Regions from separate parts of the Homo sapiens genome. Here all the other regions are reported to be linked to region 3. Evidence: microRNA targets listed by miRTarBase, many of them from high-throughput screens and not tested one by one. Region 3 holds a microRNA gene; each other region holds the end of a gene's coding sequence.

Evidence for each region. The annotated mature microRNA hsa-miR-30d-5p reads UGUAAACAUCCCCGACUGGAAG and lies in region 3 at 4,976-4,997, opposite strand. An mRNA with a match to its seed (bases 2 to 7 or 8) in the 3' UTR can be bound and repressed. Matches are read on the target gene's strand: a 7mer-m8 pairs with bases 2 to 8, a 7mer-A1 pairs with bases 2 to 7 and ends in A, and an 8mer does both.
Region 1: miRTarBase lists MED29 as a target of hsa-miR-30d-5p. Seed matches in the 3' UTR shown: 8mer at 3,748-3,755.
Region 2: the mRNA of AZIN2 is a reported target of hsa-miR-30d-5p. The part of its 3' UTR that is shown has no 7-base or 8-base seed match.
Region 4: the mRNA of CPEB4 is a reported target of hsa-miR-30d-5p. Seed matches in the 3' UTR shown: 8mer at 3,434-3,441 and 7mer-A1 at 3,286-3,292.

Annotation. Positions count from the first base shown.
Region 1 is chr19:39,396,649-39,403,797 of GRCh38, forward strand. It overlaps MED29 (mediator complex subunit 29), which reads left to right. Exons shown (of 4, transcript NM_017592.4): 4 at 809-3,993. The coding sequence ends at 1,051. Among named protein-coding and RNA genes, the nearest start is that of ZFP36, 6.6 kb to the right of the region's middle. RefSeq lists enhancers at 1,673-1,722, 5,175-5,394, 6,655-7,149.
Region 2 is chr1:33,119,323-33,126,485 of GRCh38, forward strand. AZIN2 (antizyme inhibitor 2) reads left to right here. Exons shown (of 12, transcript NM_052998.4): 12 at 722-4,170. The coding sequence ends at 860. Among named protein-coding and RNA genes, the nearest start is that of AZIN2, 42 kb to the left of the region's middle.
Region 3 is chr8:134,799,944-134,807,106 of GRCh38, forward strand. It overlaps MIR30D (microRNA 30d), which reads right to left and starts at 5,002; the gene lies at 4,933-5,002. It overlaps MIR30B (microRNA 30b), which reads right to left and starts at 664; the gene lies at 577-664. It also overlaps a transcript of ZFAT not described here.
Region 4 is chr5:173,955,429-173,962,428 of GRCh38, reverse strand. It overlaps CPEB4 (cytoplasmic polyadenylation element binding protein 4), which reads right to left. Exons shown (of 10, transcript NM_030627.4): 10 at 449-6,519. The coding sequence ends at 6,292. Among named protein-coding and RNA genes, the nearest start is that of C5orf47, 30 kb to the left of the region's middle.

The DNA.
Region 1 (7,149 bases), not on the chromosome of region 3:
CCAGGAGGCAGAGGTTGCAGTGAGCCAAGATCGTGCTACTGCACTCCAGCCTGGGCAACAGAGCGAGATTCCACCTCAAAAGAAAAAAAAAAAAGCCTGGGCGCGGTGGCTCATGCCTGTAATTCCAGCACTTTGGGAGGCTGAGGCGGGTCGGTCACCTGAGGTCATGAGTTTGAGACCAGCATGGCCAATGTGGTGAAACCTTGTCTCTACTAAAAATAAAAAAAAAATTAGCCGGGTGTGGTGGCGGGTGCCTGTAATCCCAGCTACTCGGGAGGCTGAGGCAGGAGAATCACTTGAACCTGGGAGGCGGAGGTTGCAGTGAGCTGAGATCGTGCCATTGCACTCCAGCCTGGGCAACAAAACCGAAACTCCATCTCAAAAAAAAAAAAGAAAGTAGTACCTAGAGCAGCCAGAGAAGCAGGCAGAAAACCAGGGGTGAGATGCCACTGCCAACACCAGGCCTGGAGCCAGGGCAGTAACAATGATAGTAGCTAACAGTTCTTGGCACTTTAAACAGTGTGCCAGGACCCGTGCCTGTGTCTCATACACCTGCTCTCACTGTTCTCACCTTATGAGGTAGGAAGAGGTGGTTATTAAACCCGTTTTCCAAAGGAGGAAACTGAGGCTCAGAGAAGAGTAGCCGCCATGCCCCCAGGTTCCCCAGCAAATGACTGGCAGGGCCAACCTCTGACTCTAAGACCTGGGAAATCCAGAGGCCAAGCCGACAACCCCCAGCTGGCCCTTGGGGTGGGGTAGAATGACCTCGGGTGGAGCTGATGCTGTCCCCTTGCCTGCCTGTCCACAGCGCCTGGCGCATGAGTGCCTGTCACAGAGTTGTGACAGTGCCAAGCACTCTCCAACGTTGGTGCCCACAGCCACCAAGCCCGACGCAGTGCAGCCTGACAGCCTCCCCTACCCACAGTACCTGGCGGTCATCAAAGCCCAGATTTCCTGTGCCAAGGACATTCACACCGCCCTGCTGGACTGTGCCAACAAGGTCACGGGCAAGACACCCGCACCACCTGCTGGCCCTGGGGGCACTCTGTGAAGTGGGGGACAGGGAGTGGGGCAGGCAGTGGTTGGTGGGTGGTGTGCAAAGGGAATGAAGAGCGTCCTGGGCCTAAACACAGCAGCCTCCTCTCTTCCTGCCTGAGCACCGCAGCGGGAGCCAGCAGGGGGCAGCAGAGGCCAACAGGGAGCTCGCAGGCCGGGCCCCTGCGTCCCTGCCCCTTCTTCCTGCTCCCCCTCCTAGCCTAGGGTAGACTTTGAACTGTGTGTGTTGATGACTTCTCTGTTCCACAGGCCCTCCCCCATTCTTGCCTGGGTGTGGAGCCCTGGCTGTCCCCTCTCCCTCAGTCCTTCCTGACTGTCTCCAGCTGGGAGGTGGTCTCTGTGTGCCACTCCTCTGTGTCTCTATTACAGTTGTGTCTCTCTCATCCTGTCTCTTTTTCCCTTGTTTCTCTGTTCCTGTTAATGTGTTTCTCCCCATGGTCCTATTTCTCTCACTCTGACCTCTCTCTCTTAGTCCCCTTTAGCTGTCTTCTATCCCCAGCTCCTAACTGGGACTCTGTGTCTATGCAGGGGGCCAGCACCCCTGGGTTATCTGGGGCTAAGGGAAGGGACTTCATTTCCAGGGGCCACAGCCAAGCCCAGAGTCCCCCAGCGGCTCGCATGTCAGCCCAGACCCCAGGGTCCTTGGCCTAGGAGAGGAGCAGTGGAGGGGCCCAGGCTCTGAGCTCCACAGGTCTGAGCAGGGAGCAACTCAGGCCCCCACCCAAGCCTGCGTCAGCGGAACTTGAGTGAGGGGCGTTGTGCAATTTGTGGCAAGGCTGGCCCAGCTGGATGCCTGGGTCCCAGTATTTTTAGCCCCAAAGGAGAAGTGAAAAGGCCCCAGCCGGGGTGAATCATCAGTCCTGGGGAAGAACCCAGGCGCCTGAGCCCCAGCTCCGGGAAGCAGGCACTGGGGAGGGGGCTTCAAGGAGGGAGTGCCCCCTCAGACTCCCTGCTTCCCTGGAAGCTTCAGGAAGCTCAGCCTCAGCCTTCAGGCCTGAGCAAGTGCAGGGCGGAGCTACCAGCCCAGGCTCAGATGTTGGGGTGTGAAAGCCTCAAGTGACTCAGCCTGGTTGGAGAACTGCCCCACCCAGTATCTTCTGTGCCATGGTTCCCACATTCGCACTCCATGGCCTCCTGTCCTGGACCCCACGTCTGCAAGGAAACCCTAGGACCATGGATACCTCTGTGATTCACGCTGAGCCCAAGTCCCCACACTGGAAAACTGGGAAATGGCCAGCTGTGTGTCCCAGGAAATTCCTCCCCTTATTCTTCCTTGAAGTGCCCGAGCATGTAGGGCAAGAAGGAAGGCTGAAGCGCTGTCCCTAGGAGGAATTTCTCCTTCAGGGGAGCCTCAGTTTTGCCCATTTATCTAATTGAATCAGTTTTTTACCCAATCCCCCGATTTTGTAGGATAATCTCCCTTATCTAAAGTCAACTGATTATGGACTTTAATCACATCTACAAAACACTTCCATGGCGACAGCTAGATGAGTGTTTGAATAACTGGGACTGTAGCCCGTCCAAGTTGACACATAAAACTGACCATCGGGCCGGGGGCGGTGGCTCACGCCTGTAATCCCAACACTTTGGGAGCCCGAGGCGGGCGGATCACAAGGTCAGGAGTTCGAGACCAGCCTGGCCAACACGGTGAAACCCCGACTCTACTAAAAATACAAAAAATTAGCCGGGTGTGGTGGCACACACCTGTAGTCCCAGCTACTCGGGAGGCTGAGGCAGGAGAATCGTTTGAACCTGGGAGGCAGAGGTTGCAGTGAGCCAAGATCACACTATTGCACTCCAGCCTGGGCGACAGGGCAAGACTCTGTCTCAAAAAAAATAAAAAACTGACCATCTAGTCCTTGTCATCTGGGCACCCTCACACATCTCCTTAACCACACTTAATCTCCAAATAAGTACGATAACATAGTCATAGTCCCACCCAACATGATGCAGTTATCTTGCATACAACTGAAGACAACTAACCCTTTCCCCAACAGAGCCCACCAGCAGTGGTGGAGATGTCGGTCCATGAGCGCACACACAAGACTGAGGGACTGTCGGCCCTCCCAGGTGGTGTCAACACAACATCACACACAGGTGGGGGGGCCTGATAGCCCAGCACCCATGATACAGGGCCTACCAATGCTTAAAACCACACCCAGGGAGCCCACAGAGGCACTCAGTGGGTGGTGGGGTGATGGATACACATCTATCAGGCACAGGGCGGAGGTGGGCACCACTGAGTTGCACTCAGCAAACACATTGGGTATCTTGTGCCCAAGGCCTGTATTTGTGGAGCTGATGTTCTAGTGAGAGACAGTAAATGTGACAAAAGTAAAATATATCAGATGGTGAGAAAACAGAAAAATGAGATCAGAAGTGGAGATGTTGGGGCCAGGCACAGTGGCCCAGGCCTGTAATCCCATCACTTTGGGAGGTGCAGGCAGGCAGATGGCTTGAGCCCAGGAATTCAAGACCAGTCCGAGCAACATAGCAAAAGCCCTTATCTGCAAAAAATTCAAAAATTAGCCAGGTGTGGTGGTGCGTGCCCAGGTTCCCAGGTACTCGGAGGCTGAGAGGTGGGAGGATGCCTTGAGCTTGAGAGGTTGAAGCTGCAGTGAGCTGTGATCGCACCACTGCACTCCAGCTTGGTTCATGGAGACCCTGTTTTTTTAAAAAAAGAAGTGGAGGTGTTTACACCAGCAAAATACTCATTTTTTAAGTGTAATTAAGTTGAAGATCAAAAAATGGAAATGTATAATTAAATCATACTTAGCAAATCTAACACATGAAATGTAACATCTGCATATGGAGAATCGTGTTACTTTATTGAAAAACATTAAAAGTTTGAGAACTTAAGTTGGATTGTGGTTTCGTGAGCATTCATTATGGTTTATATATGTTCCATGTATTTATTATTAAATAGATGACAAGGGTTTTCTTATTCTTGTTTATATATGTTTGAGACCAGTCTCACTCTGTCGCCCAGGCTGGAGTGCAGTGACGCCATCTCGGCTCACTGCAACCTCCGCCTCCTGGGTTCACGTGATTCTGCTGCCTCAGCCTCCCAACTAGCTGGGATTACAGGCGTGCATCACCACACCTGGCTAATTTTTGTATTTTTAGTAGAGACGGGGTTTCACCATGTTGGCCAGGCTGGTCTTGAGCTTCTGACCTCAAGTGATCTGCCCGCCTCGGTCTCCCAAAGTGCTGGGATTACAGGCACAGGCACGAGCCACTGCAGTGGGCCTTTTAATTTTTGTTTTAATCCTTGACAGAGGTCAAGGAAGGCCTCACTGAGAAGGCGATATTAGAGCAGCCCCGAAGGAGAGGGAATGAGCTTGGGGACATCCACACATCCAGGCAAGAGTGCTCCAGACAGAGGGAACTGCAAGTGCCAGGGACCTGGGACAGGAATGTGCTGGGATTTATGGAACACATAAAAAGGAGGCTTGGGCACAATGAGGGAGCAGGGATAGGAGAGGAAATCCAGACAGGTCACAGAGGGCCTTGGTGAGGACTTGGGTTTGCTAGGTAACTAAACCCAGAGGGAGACTACACAGTCTGGTGCACACTGCATGCTCCAGGGACGGGGTGTACGTGAGGTGCACAGCCACCACAAAACAGACCGTGGGGACTCCAGCACACAGCATGTCTGCCCCACTGCAGAGCTAACCCACCATCCTACAATCATGGTGCCCCCAGGGACCCCATCCCATTGACAGTCCCACAAACATACTTTCAGGGAGCAACCCAGCCACATGAATACACAAACAACCCTCTAACCACCACTTTACCAGATAAGCTATCTCTCACCCCATCGCAGACTTTGCCCATCACAGGCTGACTCAGCCCTGTCCTTAGCCCAGCACTATCAGAAGCAGCCTCATCGGCGCTGCCCCAGCTTCTCAGGTACTCATGTCTGCACGTCTGCTCTGCCCACAGAGGCCGACACAAGAACAGTGACATGGAGGGGGGAGCTCGCCAGCTACTCTCCCCATCACGCAGGCTGTAGACGTCAGAAACCAAAGTTCATCGGTTTCTCTGCCTTGTGACTCGGGCCACAGGAACTGCATTCAGACGCCGGCCTGCTGTGGTCTGCACATGCAGTCTCAGACACCCACGACAAAGGACGTGGACATATGTGAACACTTCACACACCCAGGGACTACACACACTGAGCCACAAAGGCCTTGCACACGGCCACAGCTGCAGAGTCACAGATGCTGACACAGCTTCAAATGTGTGTGCCGGGTGTGGTGGCACGTGCCTTTAGTCCCAACTACCTGGGAGGCTGAAGTGGAAGGATCGATTCAGCCTGGGAGGTCGAGGCTGCACTCCAGCCTGGGCAACAGAGCGAGACCCTGTCTCAAAGCAACACACACACACAAAGTTGTGTGTGCACACAGCCTCAGTCACAGGGGAGGGCAGTCATTCCCTCACCCAGGCACCTGCGCGGAGTTACACACACTTAGTCACTGCAGATCCCACAGTGGCTCAGAGCTACGCACAGATATGCAGGTGGGGATGAAAATCTCATGTTCTTAAGAATGCCGCCTCAGAGACAAATTGCAGTACAGTTACAACAGAGCATCCACCCCACACCCAGAGATGGCCAAAGTACACACGGTACAGTCGATCACACAGGCGGTTTCACACATTGATTCACACAGCCAAGTCATGCGGGATTGTATGCACACAGCCTTCTCACAGGAAACTGGGCACACTCGTGTCCCTCACGTTCCCCCACTGCATACCCAGGCACACAGGCTCTCGCAGCCCCAGATGCCAAGGCGCACACCTTTGCACCCGCAAGCACACATACTGTTCACACAACCGGGTACACATGACGGCTAGCCCAGGCCCGCCGCCCACGCAGTCGCAGGCCAGGGTACACACGGCCAGCGCCGCCCTTGGCCACGCCCGCTCAGGCCCAGGCAATCGCGCCAGGCGCACACACGGCGCGAGCACACGTGCCGCGGGTACACGATCCCCAGCTCGCCCGCGCACTCGGCCAGCTCTCACACCCCCGCGTTTCCCGTCCCCGCTTGTTTTTCTGGAAACTCTGCTCTCCCCTCCCCTCCCCCTAGGCCGGAAGTGTTGGCTGTATTTTTAGCCTCTCTGGTTTCCGCCCCTTTCCTTCTTTCCCCGCCCGCCCAGGACTGGCCCCAGCGCCCCGCGGGGGGACCCCGGCCATCCCCTTCCCCACCGTCATTCCAGAGGGGATTCCCGGCCGCCGCTGGGGCCGCGGATTTTCCCGCTGGCTACGTAGGGAGCAGGGAGGAGTCCTGCCATGAACTTCCTTCTGGCCTGGGACGCCCGAGATCTGAGGGGAGGGCTGAGGGCCTGGTCTCCTGGATCTGATCGAGGACAGGCTGGGGGTCTCCCGGGTCTGAGGGAGGAGGAGTTAGGGGCCTGAACCGCTGGATCTGAGGGAGGAGGAGATGGGGGCCTGGACCCCTGGGTCTGAGGGAGGAGGGGCTGGGGTCTCGGGGGACCTGAGGATCTGAGGGAGGAGGGGCTGGAGGCCTGGACCCCTGGGTCTGAGGGAGGGGGGGTTGGGAGTCTCCCGGGTCTGAAGGAGGAGGAGTTAGGGGCCTGGACCCCTGGATCTGAGGGAGGAGGAGCTGGGGGCCTGGACCCCTGGTTCCGAGGGAGGAGGGGCTGGGGGCCTGGACCCCTGGATCCGAGGGAGGGGGGTGCTGGGGGCCTGGAGTCCTGGGTCTGAGGGAGGAGGGGCTGGGGACCCAGGGCCCTGGGTTACTGCGAGGGAGGAGGGACTGAGGCCTTGGCTCCTGGGTCCCCCAGGTCTGTGGGTTTGGGGAGGTGGAGGACCAGTCCTTCTGCGAGCAAAGCATCCCCCTCCTTTGAGAGTGGCCCTATCCCAAAAGTCCTGACTCTTGGGGCCGATGACTCAGCAGATGGGAGAGAGGAGGGGGACAGCCTGACTCAGGGATGGGAAATGCTCCCGGTCTCCAGGGAGTAGAAACTGGAATCCCTCCTCCAGGATTGATCGCAGCCCGAGCTGAGCCGGGCTCCGCGAACCCAAGGATGCCCCCAACCCCCCTTTCCCCGCCTCAATCCTTTAAGCTG
Region 2 (7,163 bases), not on the chromosome of region 3:
GTTTTTTGGAAAGATGAATCTGGGTCCTGGCTGAGAACTGTCTGGAGAGGGCACGAGCAGATCAGGGAGACTGAAATGGTGTTACCCATGGGGATGGAGACCATGGGGCACATGAGGATGTTCAGAAGCTGGGCTCAGCAGGGCTCAACTGGGTGTGGGAACAAGATTGCCAACTGTTTACAACTCTGATAGTGGAGCCATTGATCAACATGGGTATGTAGGAGGAGAAGCAGTTTGTGGGATTGTTTGAGAGAATGGGATATGATTTTATTTGAAGTCCCAAGCCTGGGGTATGATGAATGTGGGCTTTCGAGTGAGAGTTGGGTTCAGTCCTAGTTCTACTACCTACTAGGGATGTGATCTTAGGTAGGTCACTTCTCTCTCTGGGGAACTGATTGATTACATCATCAATGCAACGGGGATGGTAATGCCTCCCTCATGGGGTTTTTGGGAAGATACAAATAGATAATATAAGTGCCTGGCATGATGTCTGGCATGTAGTAAATGCTCGATACATGTGGATTTCTTTCCCTTGTTGAGGGGTGGGGACCACACGGGAGTAGGAAGCAGTTGGGGAGGGGTCAGCAGCCTGTCCCTGCCCCTGCCCTCAGCTGAGCTCGGGCTCACGTGAGAGCCCTCTGCCCAATGGGGCTGCGTCTCCAGGTACAGGGCCCTGCCAGTCCCATGCTGGCTACTTGCAGCACCCCTCTCTCACCCCTAGGGAAGCGCTGCGAAGGCAGCTGATGGCTGCAGAACAGGAGGATGACGTGGAGGGTGTGTGCAAGCCTCTGTCCTGCGGCTGGGAGATCACAGACACCCTGTGCGTGGGCCCTGTCTTCACCCCAGCGAGCATCATGTGAGTGGGCCTCGTTCCCCCCGGAGAATCCCAGCGGGGCCTCAGAGATGCATCTGGGAGAGGTGGGGAAGATGGCAGGCAAGGGTACCCTTGGCCAGGACTCTGGTGCCCACCCTGCCACCCCCGCGCTCCACCTGCAGTGTTTCTGCCCTGTAAATAGGACCAGTCTTACACTCGCTGTAGTTCAAGTATGCAACATAAATCCTGTTCCTTCCAGCTGTGTCTGCCTCCTCTGCAGTGCAAGGGGCCTGGTCAGCCAGGTGTGGGGGTGTTCTTGGGGTCTCCTTTGGTCTCCTTCCCACCTTTGTAAATATAATGCAAATAAATAAATATTTAGGTTTTTAAAAACTGCAGCGGAATCTGGCAGTTTGATTCACAAAGCAGCCTGGGCTAGGCCTGGGGCAGGATTTCCCCATCACTCACTGATGAGCCCACACCCTCTGCTTTAGTCCTGAGCCCTGGCTGCAGCGTGTGCCTCCCCCACTAGTACTCACCTTATCTGACTCATCTCTCTCCTCCTCATGGGCCTCCAGGCCTGGTGCCATAAGGAAGGGGCTGCTGTCAGGGACTGAGATGGGCAGTTACGTAGCTCATAACTGGTGAATGGCCTTTGGGTCAGCCCAACACCCAGCTTAAGGCCTGGCCCAGAGTAGGGGCAATGGAGTATTTAACACAGCTGTGGAAATTCATACTGAAGATACAGAGCCAAGAAATGGGTGTGTGGGAGGTTTTGAGTGGACCCTGCACCCTTGCTCTCCCTGCAGGTTGGCAAGGCAGTCAGAGTAAAGCAGACACCTGGTGGTCGCTTTTGCTTCTTTGGGCAGTGCCTGTTAGAACAGGGCTGGCCACGGAGTATTGCTGTGTCCAGTGCCGACAGCCCTGGCATCCCCTGAGACTGGCAGTGCTTATCAGGACAAAGGCTCCTTCACACTGCCGGGTTCCCAAATTATGCCCCGGGGTGTGTGAGCTGTTGAGCAAAGGAGTTCAGATTTTAGAGTCCCCCTCAGTGGCTGCAGGGGACTCTAAATATTTTTCTGCTGCAATTAAAAGATTTGAGATGTAATTCATATGCAATCATCAAATTCACCCTTTTAAATGCAGAAGCCTGGGTGCAGTGGCTCACACCTGTAATCCCAGCACTTTGGGAGGCTGAGGCAGGTGATCACCTGAGGTCAGGAGTTCGAGACCAGCCTGGCCAACATGGCAAAACCCCGTCTCTACTAAAAATACAAAAATTAGCCAGGTGTGGTGGTATGTGCCTGTAATTCCAGCTACTCAGGAGGCTGAGGCAGGAGAATCACTTGAACAGGGAGGTGGAGGTCGCAGTGAGCCGAGGTTGCAGTGAGCCGAGATTGCACCACTGCACTCCAGCCTGGGCGACTGAGCGAGACCCTGCCTCAAATAAAGAAATAAATAAATAAAGTGGAGAAGTTAGTGGTTTCTGGTGTATTCAGAGTTGTGTAACCATCACCCTAGAAAGAAATCCCATACCCATTAGCAGTCACTCTCCATTTTTCCCATTCCCCAGTCCCTGATGACACAAATCTACCTTCCATCTCTATGGATTTGCTTATTCTGGACATTGTATTGTGATGGATTTTCTATCTTCACTTGAGCTTCTCTCTAGGTAAGCCTGACCATCCTGCTTCAGTATCTCAGCCAGTCCTGGTGGGAACTGTACGTGGCTTTGAGGTCATCTCATGAGGCAATGTGGCATGGGTTTGGAGTGAACGAGGTGCTTTCTCAAAGCCAGGGGTGTCTCCCTTTTCCAGGTGGGATCTAGTTTTCGGTATCTTGACAATAAATAGGCTGAAAGCTTGGGACATCAAAAGACTCAGGGCAATCAGAAAGGGTTACTCTACTACCCCGTGATCCATCAAAGCCACGATTTACAGGTATTACCATGCCAGTAATTGTCTATCAGACTCTGAGACTTCTTCCATCTCAGATCTCCAAGCACTCATACTTCTTTTGCGGAGAGGGACATAGGTTTTCTGCTGGAACCAGGCATCTGCTGTGAAAAGCGCAGGAATCCTGGGAAGATCTCATGGCTGGCTACAGTGAGACCCAGGTGTAGCTGATTCCCTCTTCTGAGCAAGTCCACTGAGGGGGCATTCTGTGGCTTTTGAAATGACAGTGGCTGTCATGGAGTTTGGATGGATTTCTCACTGGAGCCTTTCTAGTGTTTCATGTTCCATTTGCAGCAAGGATGTGAAATTTACTTTTCCAAGAAAGATACACGCAGAACTTGATGTGGCTTACTTGAGGATAATAGTTAATAGTCATTTTTTCCCAGTTATTTGTTTTTGTTTCTTATTTCAATCTTTTTCTAAAGAGAAGAAAAAAGCCTGAAATGTGGAGAATGGTAAGGGGCTTCAGGCTTGTGCAGGCGAATCTAAGCAGGGGTCTCCTGGACCCCTGGCTGCATGGGCACTGCCTCCTCCAAGCTCCCTGCTGAGCGACCCACTGGCAGTGGCTCCTCATGCCTCCTGGCTGCCTTGGAAGTCAGATGTTCCTGTTGGCCTATCACAGACCCATCCTTCCCTGGGGCATCACCTGAGGAACATCCTCTTCCCAATGCCTCCCTACAACCCACCTGTGCCTCCTGAAGCCCCTCCTGCGCGCACACTCACTCTCTCTCATTCTCTCCTTCAAGGAGTTAACAGATCTGAGCTTCCATCTTCTCATACTCAGGACTGGCCCCTTCTTCCCCTTTCCCCTCCACAGTCCATCCTCCACTCAGCAGCCAGATGCCGTACCTCCTGGGATTCCGTTTCACCAAGAATGAAATTTAAAGTCCTTGGCCAGCTGGCTCTCTGACTCCCACACTTCCCTCTCACGCACTGGGTCCTGGCCACACTGGCCTCCCCTCTGTTCTTCAAACACTCCACTGCTGGGCATGCATTTACTGTCCCCTCTCTAGAATGATCTTCCTGGGTTATCTGTGGGCCTCACTCACTTCATTCAGGTTCTGTGCAAATGTTTTCTTTAGGTGAAGCCTTCTGGATCACCCTTTAGAAAATAGCATGTCCTAGTCTCTCTCTTTTCTCTTAACTAGTTTTCTTTTTCTTCATAGTACCTACCACCACTCAACATACTCTATAACATAACTCCATAATGTGTTCCATAACACAAGGGCAACTGTCAGCCCTTCTAGAATGTGAGCTCTAGGCTCTTGGAATAAACCTGATTTATTTTTTCACTGCTGTGTCCTTATTACCTAGAACGGAGTAGGTGTTCAAAAAGTATATGCTGGATGGGCAAATGAATAAACATGTCTGAATCTGTCTGAATAAACATGCTCTTAACCTGTCTGAATCTGTTTACTCATTTGTACAATGTGGCTGATAACTTTATTTCCCTCAGAGGGTTATTGTGAAGATTAAATAAGAAAATGGGTATAAGGCCAGCTGTGGTGGCTCATGCCTGTAATCCTAGCACTTCGGGAGGCCAAGGCTGGTGGATCACGAGGTCAGGAGTTTGAGACCACCCTGGCCAACATGGTGAAACTCCATCTCTACTAAAGATACAAAAAATTGGCAAGGAGCGGTGGCTTACGCCTATAATTCTAGTACTTTGGGAGGCCAAGGCAGGCGGATCACGAGGTCAGGAGTTTGAGACCAGCCTGGCCAAAACAGTGAAACCCCGTCTCTACTAAAAATACAAAAAATTAGCTGGGTGTGGTGGCGGCACCTGTAATCCTGGCTACTTGGGAGGCTGAGGCAGGAGAATCACTTGAACTGGAAGGTGGAGGTTGTAGTGAGCTGAGATCACACCACTACACTCCAGCCCGGATGACAGTGTGAGACTCCATCTCAAAAAAAAAAGATACAAAAAATTAGCCAGGCATGGTGGCGTGCACCTCTAATCCCAGCTACTTGTGAGGCTGAGACAGGAGAATCACTTGAACCTGGGAGGCGGAGGTTGCATTGAGCCGAGATCCTGCCATTGCACTCCAGCCTAGGCGACAGGGCAAGACTCCATCTCAAAAAAATAAACAATAAAAAATAAAAAAAGAAAATGGGTATAAAGTACTTAGTCCAGGACTTAGCACTCCTCTGAGTTCTCAGGGAGCTCACAGTGCAGCATGGTCACAGAGGACCTTGAATTACAAAGCCAGGAGTTTGAACTTAATTCTGTAGGCAGTAGGGAGCCCGCTATGCTTCTGGAGCAGAAGAAGCACGTCAGGATCTTTGGGAAGATTAATTGAAAGTGTATTCAAAATAAAAAAAAGAAAAAAAAGTATACTCAAAAGGGGTGGAGGGAGGAGACCTTCAGGGCTGGTAGTGGCATGTACTTCCTTCACCTCTGCCCACAGTCTGAAAGGCAGACCCAGTCAGGAAACTTTTTTTTTTATTATACTTTAAGTTCTAGGGTACATGTGCACAACGTGCAGGTTTGTTACATATGTATACATGTGCCATGTTGGTGTGCTGCACCCATTAACTCATCATTTACATTAGGTATATCTTCTAATGCTATCCCTCCCCCGTCCCCCAACCCCACGACAGGCCTCGGTGTGTGGTGTTCCCCAACCTGTGTCCAAGTGCTCTCATTGTTCAATTCCCACCTATGAGTGAGAACATGCAGTATTTGGTTTTTTGTTCTTGTGATAGTTTGCTCAGAATGATGGTTTCCAGTTTCATCCATGTCCCTACAAAGGACAGGAACTCATCCTTTTTTATGGCTGCATAGTATTCCATGGTGTATATGTGCCACATTTTCTTAATCCAGTCTATCATTGATGGACATTTGGGTTGGTTCCAAGTCTTTGCTATTGTGAACAGTGCCACAATAAACATACGTGTGCATGCATCTTTATAGCAGCATGATTTATAATCCTTTGGGTATATACCCAGTAATGGGATCCAACCAGGAAACTTTGAGGAGGTCAGAGAGACGCAAGTTGTCAACTCTGTTCACCCCAGCTCAGAGGGAGATGGTGGCTCTCTGGGTGGGAGTCATCTCTCACCTAGGAAACCCACCTGCCCAAGCCATCTCATTCCAGCTGTAAAGGGAACAAAGGGGAGGCAAGAGGACAGGGGTTCCACTCATCCCTTTGCTCCATTTTAAACCCTCTTCCTGGCACCTTTAGGTAAACAGCTAAGCCTGTGTAAATTCAACCAGTAAAATGATCTGATTGTCAGTCCTCTGCTGAAAGCCCTTCAGTTGATTTCCGCTGCGATGCCAAAAAAAGCTAAATTGCCTGAGACCCCTGCCCACCTCTCCCACCTCATCTCATGCCACTCTTTTCTCACATTTCAGTTTCTCACATTTACTGACTTCTTTCTTGCCTCCAAGTCTTCGCCTTTGCTGTTCCCTTAGCTACTCCAGCATTGGCTCATTCTCATCTTAAAGGCCTCGGCTTGAATGTTGCCATCTCAAGAAGGCCTTTTCCAAACATCCTGTTCAAAGTAGCCCCCACCAACTTATGTGGTCATATTTTACAGGGATGAGGCTCTAAAGACCATATTTAAGGCAAGAATCATATGGTCAAAATTATCATTGAAAATCCCTTAGAAAGCTATCATATTGGAATCTTGTTCATCACACGCCCTTTCCTTTCCTTTCCTTTCCTTTCCTGTAACATGCCAGACACACTTACAACCCCAAATCTCTGCATAGATCTCTCTCCCTCATCCCTTCAGGTCTTTGCTCAAATGTAATGTTCTCAGTGAGAACTTCCTGACTACCCACTTCAGGCTGGGAGTGACGGCTCATTCTTGTAATCCCAGCACTTTGGGAGGCTGAGGCAGGAGGATCACTTGAGCCCAGGAATTTGAGGCCAGCCTGGGCAACATAGTGAGATGCCATCTCTAAATCAAACAAACAAAAAAACTGTAACATTTCCATTCCTGCCCCAGCATTCTATAATCCCCTTCAGAGCCTTACTTTTTCCTCCATAGATCACTGTCTAACATATTATACATTTCACTTAGAATTAAGTTCTGAGGGCAAAGATTTGTTTATTTTGTTCACTGCTGGGTCCACAGTGCCTAGAATACTGTCCTTCATGTAGATGTTCAAGAAATTACTGAATGAAGGAATGAATCTTTCAGGCCTCAGCTTGGGTGTCTCTCTCCTTTCTCTTACTTTCTATTCCTTCATTAGGGGTTCCATCTCCGGGCTTTCATGCATCCTGTATTTGTCCCTATTAAAGAACTACTGATCACAATGTACTGTAGTTTTCCTCTCTAAATACTTGTCTTCCTGCGTATCTAATCCTATTGATTCCATAAAGACAGGGAGTGTTTCTCCTACTTTCTAGTGTGATCTGGAACCTAAGACTGTGCTTACCACAGAGTAG
Region 3 (7,163 bases):
TCATGTAAGTCAATCCATGCAATCACATACTTATTTTACAGATGAGAAAACCACTGAGGTATGGAAACAGTGCCTTTCCCTCCTCCAAATCCCGTAGCAAATTCACTTGTGGAGTCCAGATGGCAACAAATGTCTGATGTCAAAGCCCATGCTTGTTAAAGCACACTGCAATACTACAAACCCGACCCCAACTACCAAACAAGGGCATTCTTTTGTCCCAATACCCAGAGCCTTATGTCATGTTAGTGCTATAGCAAAATTGAAAAGATACAATAAAAATTTAAATTGAGTAACAAATTTAAAGGAATTTTAATAAATTTAGAGTAATTTTTCCTCTATAAGCATACTGTTTTTCTGTTTTAACTACTCCTACTGCAACCATGCTTTCTTCTGCTTTTCTCTGCAAACATATTCAAGTAGATCCCTGCCAGCTAGACAATTAACACACTTTTTCTCTGGGAGAACAAAATGGTCTCACATTTCCAACAAACCTTTAATTACATTAATTACATTAAAAATTCAAGCCTCTGTATACTATTCTTGCCAAATCTTTTATCAATGTTAATTGGTTGACATTCCAAGTCAGCTGAAGTAAACATCCACCTCCCAGCCAATCCATGTATTACAGCTGAGTGTAGGATGTTTACATGAACTGAAACTTGGTTTAAAGCAGGACTTAAACTCTTTACTAAGTTTGTACGGTTCTTTACGTAAGACTCTGTTGAAAAAAAGAACAGGCACAGCATTCACATAAATGAGGCAAGACTCAATCGGAAAGATATCCTGAGAGAAAGTGTAGAATCCAAGGAAAAGGCAGAAGTGAGTTGGGTGTTTGTTTTTTTGGAAGTGGGGGCGTGTCCAGGGCAGTGGGGGGCACTACAGGCACGCTACTATGCCCGGCTAATTTTTCTTATTAATAAAATTTTTTTTAGAGACAAGGTCTCACTATATTGCCCAGGCTAGTCACAAACAAGTGATAACGTTTTTCACCAAAGGAATTTACAACAATAAATGCCGACATCCTGTAGTGTTCCATATCTAAATGTAGCTGATTATCCAGCCTTCCTATATCCTTCCCTTCAAAACAATCAAACTTGCATTTATAAGAACTTACTTGATGACCAGTATGATGCATCAACCAATCTTCATTAAGAAGATTCCTCCTTTAGGTAAAAGACAGTTAATGAAACACTGTGAGGAGCTTAGTCATCTCTCCTCCCCCTCAACCCTCTCCTCATCTTCTCCCCCACATTCAGAATTCAGATAATTTCATCTCAGGCACATCTTTCCCACACTCTGATCTCTTTCCACCTTCTACTGTTCCCAGTGTCATTAAGGTGTCTCAAAGAAATGTCTCCCCCTCTTTTTGCATTCTTTCTGATTAAAAATATATTCCCACAAATATCTCCACTAACTATTATCAGTGGTCCTACCAACACACTTGCATCAAAGAAGAGGAAATCTTCAAATTTGGAAGTAAAACTACATATAATAACCACTGCCAGCAAACTTTAAAAATCTTTGGCATTTCACAGGTAACCCAGGACTTTCAGGAACCTCGCCAGTCTCTACCTAGTCTCTTGTCCCTTCGGGCTGTTTTCCAAAAGCATTGGTTCTCAAGATTAAATACACATATACCTCCCCGCCACCCCACTCTACAACCATACTGCTTTTCTGTTTTAACTACTTCTATTACAACCGTATTTTTTTCTTCTGCTTTTCTCTGAAAACACATTCAAATAGGCCCCTCCCAGCTAGACAATTAATATACTTTTTCTCTGGGAGAAAAAATGGTCTCACATTTTCAACAAACCTTTTTATAATCAAACTTCTGGATTAATACATGTTTTTAAGTTAAGGATTTTTCTGTTTTACTTCATGTATTAATTGGGCATAATATCTAGCAGGAAAAGAATGTAAGATGAGCTCTGTGATTCTGAAAGCATGGGCCTAGAGGAGCAGCATCAGCAGTACTTGGGAACTGTGGGGGGAAAAGCACATTCTTATGTTCCACCCCAGACCTACTGAATCAGAAACTTTTTTTGCAGGGCCCAGCAATCTGTGTTTTAATCAATAAGCCCTCCAAGTAATTCTGATGCAAGCTGATATTGAACAGCAATGGACTGTTTCACCAAACCTGTTGGAAAGCTAAAGCAAAGACAGCAGTGAATGTCAAATTACTAGGAAGTTTGTAATATGGTACAGATAAGAAAAAGGCAATGCCAAAACATGTAGCATGGGTCCACCCACAATTAACCAGGCTAGGCAAAGTGTGGCAGAGACTATCTGAAACAGCCTTATTTTAAAAAGTAACTAAGCCCAAACTGATATTCAAACTAAAAAAAAGAAACAAAAATATTACCTGAGCACACACAGCAAATAATGCACATTGATCCAATGAATAAAGCTGTAACAAGAGTAGAAGGGAATCACAGAACATGCTCGACGCAATACCACATGCATGCTGGGGTTTATAGGTTCACAGTCCATTTCTGGGTAACCTCAAGCCCATGACTCATGTAGAAGGAACTGAGGTGTGGAGATCAATGAGAACAAGTCCAACAGTGTATTTATATGACTATTTCTAACCAAGAATATTTGTACAAAAGCATCTAATTTGAAATAAATTGGAAGACCCAATTTTGTAATTAGTTATTTGCTTTAAAAAGTTGTCCCTAAGTCATTTCAGACCATATACTCAGGATAAAATACTGTCATTTACAGAATGGTGTTCAGTAACTAAAAATGTTTTACTTTAAATATCAATTGGTAGAACAAATCTTAAATAATAAGTAATTTCTGTGCTTTCTAAGTCCTATCAATGAATACCACAATTTTTTTCTTCAACACTAAGTTAAGGGCTAGGGAAACAAGTTATTACAGGCTTATTGACAAATACTGATGATCTAACATTTCAAGCCATTTGCTATAAATAATCAATTGCTAACCTTATAGGCCAATGGGAAGTTAGTGGTTCTTCAATATAAAAACATAAAGAAGCCATCTGAAAACTACTAAAAAAGGCTGTACCTATGTATTATACTATACTGAAGCAAGGGCATCCAGAATTAAAACTGACATCGTCTTTGATTCACCTCATTAGAGGCAGAATAATATAGAACAAATGTTACATAACACAGATTGCCCCATTAATCTGTAGCATCTAGGGATAACTGGCCTAGCTGGGCAGAGTATAACAGCTTTATTATAAAGAATGCCTACCCCCTCATTTAGCTTAGGTTTGGCCTTATCATTTTGAAAAACCTTTCAAATTTCACTGCATAAATTATGCATCCATCTTACTAAATTTTAAAGCAGTATATCAAAATTTTTCATAAGAAATAAACAGTGTCACCTGGTCAAACAAAATAATCCTATTACCACAGAACACATTACATTCTACCTTTGGCAGGGAAGACTTCTGAGCTCAGCAATAACTATCCTTTCACTGCTATTTGAGTCTAAGGTTTCCAATGTGCTAAAACAGAGGGCCACAGAATATGCAATAAATCTGCTTTATTTAGAGTTCATAGGAAGGGATGCTTGATGCATGCTAATCATCCAGCCTGAAAATTGTATTTACAAGTTGGAAAGCCACCTGAGTCTGAAGCAACTGACCCCCATCCCCAAATAAGTCTTATAAACTACTACTCTAACAAAAGAGCATTTAAAAAATAAAAGCTGTAGCACAAATACATCTGGGGTAACTACATTATGACCAAAACTGTCATTTGCTCATCTGGATAAAAGATAAGAGGCAACAGTAGACACTGCTGCAATAAGATAATATAAAATCATTACTAAAGTACTATACATGCAAGGTGCTTTACTTGCTGTTTATAACAGGAAAAAATAGAATTATCAAGATTTAATGTCTCTGACCTCAGAAAGCTTATAATCTAATCAAAGAAAATAAGCATGTAAATACATTAGATTGGCAAGACCTTTATCTTTTGGTGGTTTAATCATGTATGGAACCTAACATAGTATGTTTAGCAGTTTAATAAAAATAAATGATTTAAAAAAACCAATGCTTTATTGAAAAGAAAAATGCCAATAAAATAGAAATGTTTTCCAGTGTCTGAAAGACTAACAGAAATAAAATAACAATTTTTTAAAACTCAGAAAATAGTTGCTATAAAATTATACATTATCAATTAGTCCACACTGAGTGTCATCTGTGAGAAAAGCCCTGGATTATTCAGATCTGTGGGGAAACACAAAAAATAGATACAATACAGCTGCTTTCAGGGCAGCTATATTTTAAGGAGGAAGCAATAAATCTGAAAGCAACAATCTGAAAATACTTAGGAAAAATATTAATATAAAAAGACATGCATACCCATTAGCAAATGTAAACAGGCTTAGTGGCTTGACGTCTTGCAGTTTTTCTTAGAGGAGAGTTCTGATTAGGAGCTGTAATATCACTCAGGGTGAGGGGAACAGGAAGTGGGGGGCTAAGAGGACGGAGAAAAATGTTGCACACACATCTCTTTTAAGTATAGGGAAAGCTGAAATTTCTAGATTGCATACTGCTGGGTGGTAGTGATGAAATTATTCTCCAGAACTTCCACAGAATTTACAATGGAGAAAATCAGTCTCCTGAATTGTTGGGATGTTAAACTCCAGCCTACTTGGAAAGGTTATAAAGACTAAAATTTCATTGACAGGGCAGAAACAGGAATAGGCGGTGACACTTTTTATTTAACTAAATTCTCTAAGGCCCAGCAGCAGCACGCTAAGTCTGGGAAGCTCGAGACGGCATATCCTGTTATTAGGAGAGCACCCTACATTCAACTATCATAATACGTGCACTGTCAGTGCAGTAAAAGAATGCAGCTAAAGATTTCTGAGGTTTTCCCACACATTTTATAGCCTCCTCAACTCCACTCCGGGACAGAATTATATCAAGAGGATGTCTGTGAATAGCCGGTAGCAGCAAACATCTGACTGAAAGCTTAGCTGTGTCTTACAGCTTCCAGTCGGGGATGTTTACAACAACAGACTTTCTGAACAAGAAATTTAAGAGGAGGAACAGACATAAATGTTGCCAGTCATCATCTTCAGCTAATAATTTATATAATTTCTAGTGCTGAACAATAGCTGTGACATCTTGAAACAAAAATGATAAAGTTAATGCTAATAATTAAAGAGAAAGTGGTTCACCAAGTGCAATTTCTCCTAAATAAATCTAATTTTAAAAGAAAATACGCATTACAAATTTATCTTGGTAAGTATGAAACATTAAAGATATTACCCTGATATCCTACATGAGGATACATTTTTCCAACATATGCAAAAATAAGTTTTCTTCTCCCTAGAGTTTCAAAATAGTAAACACATTAGAATGATAACCCTAATGATCAGTGACCATACATTTCATGGATGCCTGCTGCCCTGACGTTATTGTTAAAAATGACTCCTTTTATTTAAAAAAGCGTTAATTTAGTTGACAATGAATAGAGTGGGTTTTCCTGGCAGAGGATCTAAACTGAGTAAGAATCTAACACTTTCTTCCCCTGTCTCCAGCTGATTTAGGTTAGGGATGTACAGTTCAAGGAAATGAGCAAAACAAAGAGGATAATAAAAGAAACTCATGATCTTAAATTTGTTTATAAGGCAATATACTAAAACCATTTTGTTTCCACACCACTTTTCTGAAAGAAAGGAAAAAGACTAAGTGAAATATAAGTAAATCTGCATTCCATCAAAAACCAAGATTTGCTTTAATTTAAAATATGTAAAATTGCCAGGCACAGTGGCTCATGTCTATAATCACAGCACTTTGGGAGGCCGAGGCAGGTGGATGGGTAGATCGCTTGAGTCCCGGAGTTCAAGACCAGCCTTGGGCTAAGTGGCAAAACCCTACCTCTAAAAACATACAACATATTAGCTGGGTGTGGTGGTGCATGCGGTCCCAGCTATTCGGGAGGCTGAGGTAAGAGGATCCCTGAGCTTGGGAGGTGGAGGCTGCAGTGAGCTGAGCTCATGCCACTGCACTGCAGCCTGGGCGACAGAGTGAGACCCTGTCTCAAAAAAAATAAAAATAAAAATAAAATAAAATATGTAAAGTAACCTTCTTTTGGGGAAAAAAACTATGAAAACAATTAAAGTCCACAATTAAGTCACAGTGATTTATGAAATGATTTAAGAAATGAACATACATACATACATGAGCATGCATATGTACACACACACTCTACAGAATAACTACTGAAGAAAACCAATATACAAATTCTGAGAGACTATTAATTTCCTAATACCAAATTTTTTGAGAAACTATGAGAAAAGGATTTCAGTTGCTGATATTTACCCTGTGATAATATTTAACGGTTGCTCTCTGAAATACTTTTTGTTTAATGTTGTAAATAACTCTACCCATTATATAAATAATGCTGGAAATAATGAGGAAAGTACATGTGGTCTCTATGGATACAAGATGACCTTCACTGTTTTTGAAGAAAAATACTTTTTTAAAAAGTCCAGTGGCTATTTACAACAACAACTATTCAAACTGTACTACAACTGAAACTTTCCAGATTTAAATCAGGAAAAAAATAGCTATTTCATGCCTAGGTAGGCACATGATACTTGACTAATGAGGATGCTGCACATTAAGTTGCAATAAACCAGTTACCACAAGTCTCCAAATCTCCCCTTTAATTTACCTTCCTGTCCTCAGTTTAATTTTTTTAAAGACTGATCAAAAGACATTTTTATCAGAGCCACTGTATTTAACTCACACAAACAATACATAGAATATTTTCTTCAGAGTTATGAAGGAATTTTGTCAAATGCTATGACTTTGTATAATATATTCTTGAGGAAACATGAAAATTAAATGTACAGAAGTTGAATATTAAGTATATGTGATAAGAAACCCTATTATAAAATACCTTCTATCATTATAAAGTATCTTCTAGACACAATCTTTGTAATAATACACAGTAAGAAGGTAAAGTCTAATGAGGGGATAGCTGAAGCTAAAGGTTTACCATTTTTGGCATGCTTTATGATTTCCATCTTTGTCAAAAACATTACATATTTGCGGGTCAATTTTCTATCAGCATTAGCATTTTACTTTTAACACATTTTTATAAAAATGGGCAAAACACACATGCATACATACAATCTGCTGTACAGACAAAAAAATGGATATTACT
Region 4 (7,000 bases), not on the chromosome of region 3:
CAACAAAGTAAATAGGTTTCTGGCTGGGCACGGTGGCTCACGCCTGTAATCCCAGCACTTTGGGAGGCCAAGGCGGGCGGATCACCTGAGGTCAGGAGTTCGAGACCAGCCTGACCAACATGGAGAAACCCCATCTCTACTAAAAATACAAAATTAGTTGGGCATGGTGGTGCATGCCTGTAATCCCAGCTACTTTGGAGGCTGAGGTAGGAGAATGGCTTGAACACGGGAGGCAGGGGTTGCAGTGAGCTGAGAGCACACCATTGCACTCACTCCAGCCTGGGCAACAAGAGCAAAACTCCATCTCAAAAAAATAAATAAATAAAATAAAATAAAATAAAATAAAATAAAAAAGATTTCTTCATTGTAGAATTTCTTGAAGTCTTAATAAGCTAATGTGCAAATGTGCATTATTTTGACTTTGCAAGAAACAAGGTGACCCATTTTCTAAGTGTATTTAATGGTAAAACTTTATTTTTTTTTGTCTTTTTCTTGTGGAAAGGACTATCCTAGTCCTCTGAAGATCACAGTCTGAAATATTAGAGTTTTGTCTTGTTTATTATTCGGTTATTACACATTTCAGAAAATAATTACTCCTTAAAAATTTCTAACTCACTGACACCTTCAGTATTCTTCAATTTTTAAAATCAGAGATTACTTTCCCCATGACTTTTGATCAAACTATTTCCCAAACTTAAAAAAAAAAAAAAATCCCTAGAAAAAGTACTTACTTTCTGATCTAGCTGTGGACACAAACACCCATTACCAAAAGGGGTTATGAAATGACTTGATTGTTAAGAGTGTGGTAGAGAATTTCCACTGTTTATTCATCTGGTTAGACAGTAAAAACAAAAGATAAAAATAAAAAGAATTTTCCTCGTTGGGTAGGTTTAGGCAATCAGTGAATGAAGAAATATAGCCCAGGAAGCCTCTTACACCCTTTCCAGACACACCATTCTGTGATTTAAAACACCCAAAGCAATGCACCTATGTAATTTCAAGATAGAGTTGTTATATCACATATCATTGATATCTCACTTACCTGAAATAAACATTTCCTAAAATAAACTAAATATGCTTGGGCTATCTTTTTTTTCTTTTCTTAAAATAGTGAAACCATCCCAGAATGCCTAGGAATATTATAGACTTGATAACCAAATGCCACCCACATCTCCAGTGTCCCATCCCTGGGGTTTCCTCAAGGCCCTTCATTGAATGCTCAACGTAAGGTTTGGGAATTGCCAGATGAGAGAAAGGGGAAGCTGTCCAGCCTGCCCTTACCCTCAGTAATCTCTATAGTTAGAAGAGCTGCCTGTTGGGAAAGACAACTTAGACGCAAAAGATCTCATAGTCCATTTCTCTCAGGACAAGAACCTCTTCTAGTCTTGAGAATACTATACTCAAGAAAGAACAGATATTAAATCTGACAAAACAGGATATTCTCAGTGTTATATTTTGTTATAATAAATCCTTATGTTAAAAGTTTGAGAATGCAGTTTAAAATATAAATACTAACACATTACAGCACTTGGTAGTCCACATGATTAATGGATCAAATCAAAGATAATATTTTCAATTGACATGCCATAGAGATTATAATCCCACACACCGTATCCTATGACATTAAGGTCTATGGAGGAACTGGGAATTGGAAGTCAAAAGAGACTTGTTTTCAAGCCCTTTGGTAGTGTGGCCACAAATCAAGACTATTCATTGACAAAGACTCAAAACTGAACCTCCCAGATACGGACTTTCATTATTAACTAAACATTGGGTTTTTCACTTTTGTTGGGCATTTGGCCTTCAACTGATAACTGAATGCTTAGATCCTGGGCTTACTCCCTGTATACATATTGAAGGCTACAAATAAAAAGAACTCTGCAGGGCAGGCAGCAGGTGAACTAACAGTACAGGCCAAAGACACAACCACCCACCGACGCTTATAGGCTTACATAAGAATGCACACTGGCCACAGTACTTATATGACTGAAGATTTTTTCCTATTGGTTTGTGCTGCATTAGCTGAACAGTATATTCCTAATATTTTAAAATGTTACATTCCCAGTCAAGAAAGCATCATCTACTTGTGTTAAAAAGAAATAAGTATATTAAAAGAAATCTGAGTTAAAAGTTTTATTCATTCAACATCTCACATTACAAATATTTAAAAATTATATGCATACTGGTATAAATAGTCATTTGCAAACTATTTAATAACATTAATTTTTCACTAGCACTTCAACAAATGAACTCTTTTAAAAAAGGAACTGTGTTATATAACTTAAGAGTAGAACATACAAAAATAGGAACTTAACGTGAAAATGACTTTAATAAAAAATGAATTACCCTTATTTAAAATGCTATAATAAATACTACAACCTCCCCATACACAGTAAAAACTATATGGAAATTCAGCCAAGTAGTACAATTAACTGACATACTTAAATAACTTTTCCTTCTGATAATATGAGCAATACACTGGAAAAAAAATTAGGGATTAGTAAAAACTAGACACCCACTTGCTAAAAGTTTCACTTCCAAAAAATATAACAAAAATCTGATGAAAATTATAAAAACTAATTATACTTTAAATTTTAAAAATATAAAAAATAAAACAGTTGAATACAATATTGTCCCGATTCTTACAATGCTATCAATCACAGTAGCTTTAAAATAATAAAATAAAGCAAATGACCAAAACCTCTTTTATTCCATTTTTAAAAATAATCTCAAATTTACATTAGTAGAAAGATTGATTTCTGATTCTTTTCTTTAGAAACACCAGCAAGAAAGAGGATTACTCTTAACAGTAGAAAATGACATTTTTAAATGTCTGCAATTAAAAACAAAGAATTACACTGCAAAGATCTTTCAAAAGTTTGAAATAAGTATTGCACATAACTTGAAGTTAACTTGCCACAATTCATCACATTCAAGTTTTAAATCACCTTTTAACAGAAGATTCAACTCTTCAAAACAAAAGGGGTGAATTATCAAGTCTTTCCAACAGCACTCTCATAAAATGCTAAATTCATTCACTGCAAGTTTTATTTTGCATTCTGCAGAGGTCTGTGTATGGAGAAGTATATATATTATACCAAAGCGCAGGGACCAGAAGGGGAAAGGAGAGGGTTCCTTTACATAGAAAATAATCAGAAACACTTTATTTTACATTGCAAAAATCACCATGTAATTACTCTGTAACTACATTGTAAGTACATGGCTGGCGCCATGCTAGTGCGCTAGAACTACATGCTTGGTGAATTGAAGTGATGCCCTACAATCTGTAAACTAATTACATGTTAATTATGTTTGAGTTACATGGTAACTCCCAACTACAATCCCATGTAATCTGAAGAACATGTAATCATAAAGTTCAGAGTAATAGATAATCATTGTTTATGCCCTGTAAATTGAAGTGTAACCAATAATCTGTAAACACACTTGTCACACAATCACAAGTAAATATTAGTAGAATAACAATTTCTTACATTAGTCATGCACACTAACATTACACACCTGTCCCAAGGCAGGCTATTTTTTTTCCTTATATATAATTTAAAAGAGCAGACATCTCTGAATCAAACACTTAACATCAATTTATTAATATTAAAAATGGCTAAACATTCACCAAAAATGTCTGCATTTTATGAATAATTTTAAAAACTTAGTAAGAAGCTGTAGACAATTTTGTTATTTTAATTTCTACCTTATGCTTATGCATTTAATTTTTTTTTTAGGAACTACAGTGTTATCTGTCATTTTCATGCGAATTTTTTTCATTAATTTGTGACTTTACATAGACTATTTCTTAAATTATAGGTACACCAATAGCTGGTGCTGGGGAAGGATGTTTAAGCAACATGCTTTCTCTTCTCTGCAGACTCTAAAATAGCATTGCCAGTGCACGACATTCATAATTTAAAATGTATGCAGAGCACTGAAATGTATAAAAAGCAGAATATAAGAAAATAAAATTTATTAAAATTATTTATATTAAAAAATGAAGTATATGAAGATCTCTCAGTAATAAAAGTACAAAAAGCTACTCTTTGCAATATGAAAAATTGAGGTATTGCATAAAGAGATATCCCGTCAGTGAAAAGTGTGCCTAAAAATGTTCACTGTTGGAAAAACAAGATATACAAAAGTAGTGCATAACAAATATACATTATGTGCATGACAAAATAAGTTAGCTACAAAAACACTGTACCGAAATTCAGCAGGTCATGTACAAAGGGAAAAATTATTATTCAAAGCTAGTTCTCAAACAGTGTTATTTCTTGTTAACTCATCACACCTGTTTACTGAGTAGGAACAGCACGATAGCACACCCCAAGCCACCTACAAGCATTTAAAAGAGTAAAAAGAGGCAAATGAACATTCCAATTAGAATCATGTAGTTCAGGAGAAAAGAAAAAAAAGTCCCTGACCAGCTACACAAGAGCACCCTCCATTCGCATGACTGCTTTCAGTATTTGCAGGGAATTCTTTAAAAGCAGCTCCCTTTCTATGTTTGAATATTAGACAGCAAATGCCTCCATTTTGACCTTTGGAACTTAACAGGTATAGTTCATTAAAGCCTGTATTAAAAGTAAAGGGCTGCTTTTCCTAAAGATCATCCATAGGGGTCATAAGCCAGGTGGTTCCACAGCAGTGCTGGGGCAAGTCTTTGGTTTTGAAGGATCCAAGATGGTACTGTTAGGTAGCGCAACTAGCAAGATTGCCATTCGATCATATTATTTCATGTTTTGCCCACTGATAATAAACCTTTTAATGATGGATAGGGCATTTAATAAGAGAATGTCAATTAAAATAAAAGTTACTTCCATGACTAGGGCTTCAAGAGACTATTTTAAATTTACCCCTGAAGCATACTGTTCAACACATAACGCCTTTCAAAGCTAGAATTTTATTTATAATAAAGCATGCATTACTTGATGAAGTTGGCACTTCAAACACTGACTATGTCCCATGCTAAATTCGGAAACTGTAATGTTATTTTAGTTTATAGGAAGAGTAAGATAAACATACGTACCTTTGCACAGATTTACACAGTTACTTAGTTCAACAGTGCAAAACACTTTGCAACTACTTCACTTTTTTTAACTGTTTTTTCATTTTCTATGTTACAACTAAATTACAGGATACCCAAAGTAACTTTAAATCTAAAAGTAAGCCAATCAGCAGCCAAATTATATATTGGTTTTGTCTTCCAGTTTTGGCTACAAGTGTACTGTAACACAAAATCAAAAATGATATCCTTGAGGTATCTCTAGATCTGTTGTTGTTTTTTAACGTCAAAATGGAGAGCAAAGGCTGACATCTGATGAGTATTAGTAAATTAGGATATAGAGTTTATATATAAACATCAAAAATAACATTTATACATTTATTCTTCAGGAGAGGAAATGCTAGGTTTCCCACCAGTTGTCATTAATTCTAGCTTTGGTAGGTTTCCTGGGGCTTTGACCAGATAAGTAAGTTAAATAAATAAGTGCACTCCCCTCAGTAGTAAATTTACCCAATTTTTACATTCTGAATTTTAAAAATTGTTTAAGAGAAAATAAACCTAGCTCTGCCTACTTTACTATTTTTTTTTTATTTTTTCTGATGTGGTGGTAACTTTTTGAGGGATAATGAAATTATGTTCAGCCTCAAAACCCTGAAAATTAATTATAATGCTGCTCAGTCTTGCTTATGCATTTGTTTGCTCTAACATGCTCTTTCCATTAAAAATTGTTAACTTCCTCCATTGCTGTTAAAAAAATTAAAAAGGGATGGAAAAAAGAGAGAGACAAAAAAGATGAAAAAAAAAAAAAAAAGAAAGGAAAAGGCAAAAGCACTTCCCTGGGGGAAAAACTGTCAGATAGACCGATAGTGTTATTGTTGCATGGTTATTTTAATAAAAGTATTCTTATATGTTATATTATTAACAATAATTTAATTAAAAACCCAAAATACTCTATTGTTTCATTTCTCTTTTAATATTTCTCTCTCTCCTCTAAGAAAATGTTGCAGGAAGTTTGGATCCTCTTGGTTTCCAGCAAAACAAGAGAATAAAACTTCCATGCAACCCGATGGCAATACGAAAAAGGAGTTCATATTGTTTGCAGTGACACAAGAATCTACAAAACACCTATATTATAGGTCATTCTTTTCATTATACTATAGTTAAGTTACAGACTGCTACAAAAGGACATGCCAGCGTGAAGAGGTTGAGGAAGGGGTCAGAATGAACAGAAGAGTGCACTTATTCTGAGGCCTGAAAATGAGCACTGCAGTTATCCTTTAGTTCCAGCGGAATGAAATATGCCGAGGGCGGTCACCGCCTTCCTTCACCAGGGGCTTGTGGAATTCCCTGCCAGCACGAGAATGGATAGCAGCCCAGCAATATTCACAGTAATACTGCAGACAGGTAACATTAGCACAGAAAAATGGAGCAAATTTCCCCCCACAACGGGCCCCCTGACATTCATCACACAGCTGATCATCCAAGACATATGGCTTAACTTCCACCTGCAATCAAAAATAAGAGTTTACATTTTTCAGTGACTAGGCCAGCAATGCTTACCATACATGTACATTTCCACCCACTATCTGAATGAATCTGTTCCAAGGTGCCCAAAGAGGAAGGACTAATTATTCATTTACTGAAATATGGATAGTTCATCTTTTAAGAACCTAGTAAGGCTTTTATTATCTATCATTTTACATTTTTTTCTTATTAAATAAACATCCTTTAAAGGAAAAAGGATTTGAGCAGACATCATGAAGTGAAGCCAACTGTTTAGACTAGAATGTTATGAGATTAAACCCACAGGAGATTATTCATAGACATAAACCCTCATTTTAATTAGTGGATCTGGATTTTTGTCATATGTGGAATCATAATTTAAACAAAATCAACTAAGATGATCCAAGTTCCACACAACTGCACTTCAATATTCAAGTTGGTGTGAAGATGCCTGACTACTGCGTCACAAGATTCTGAGCTGTC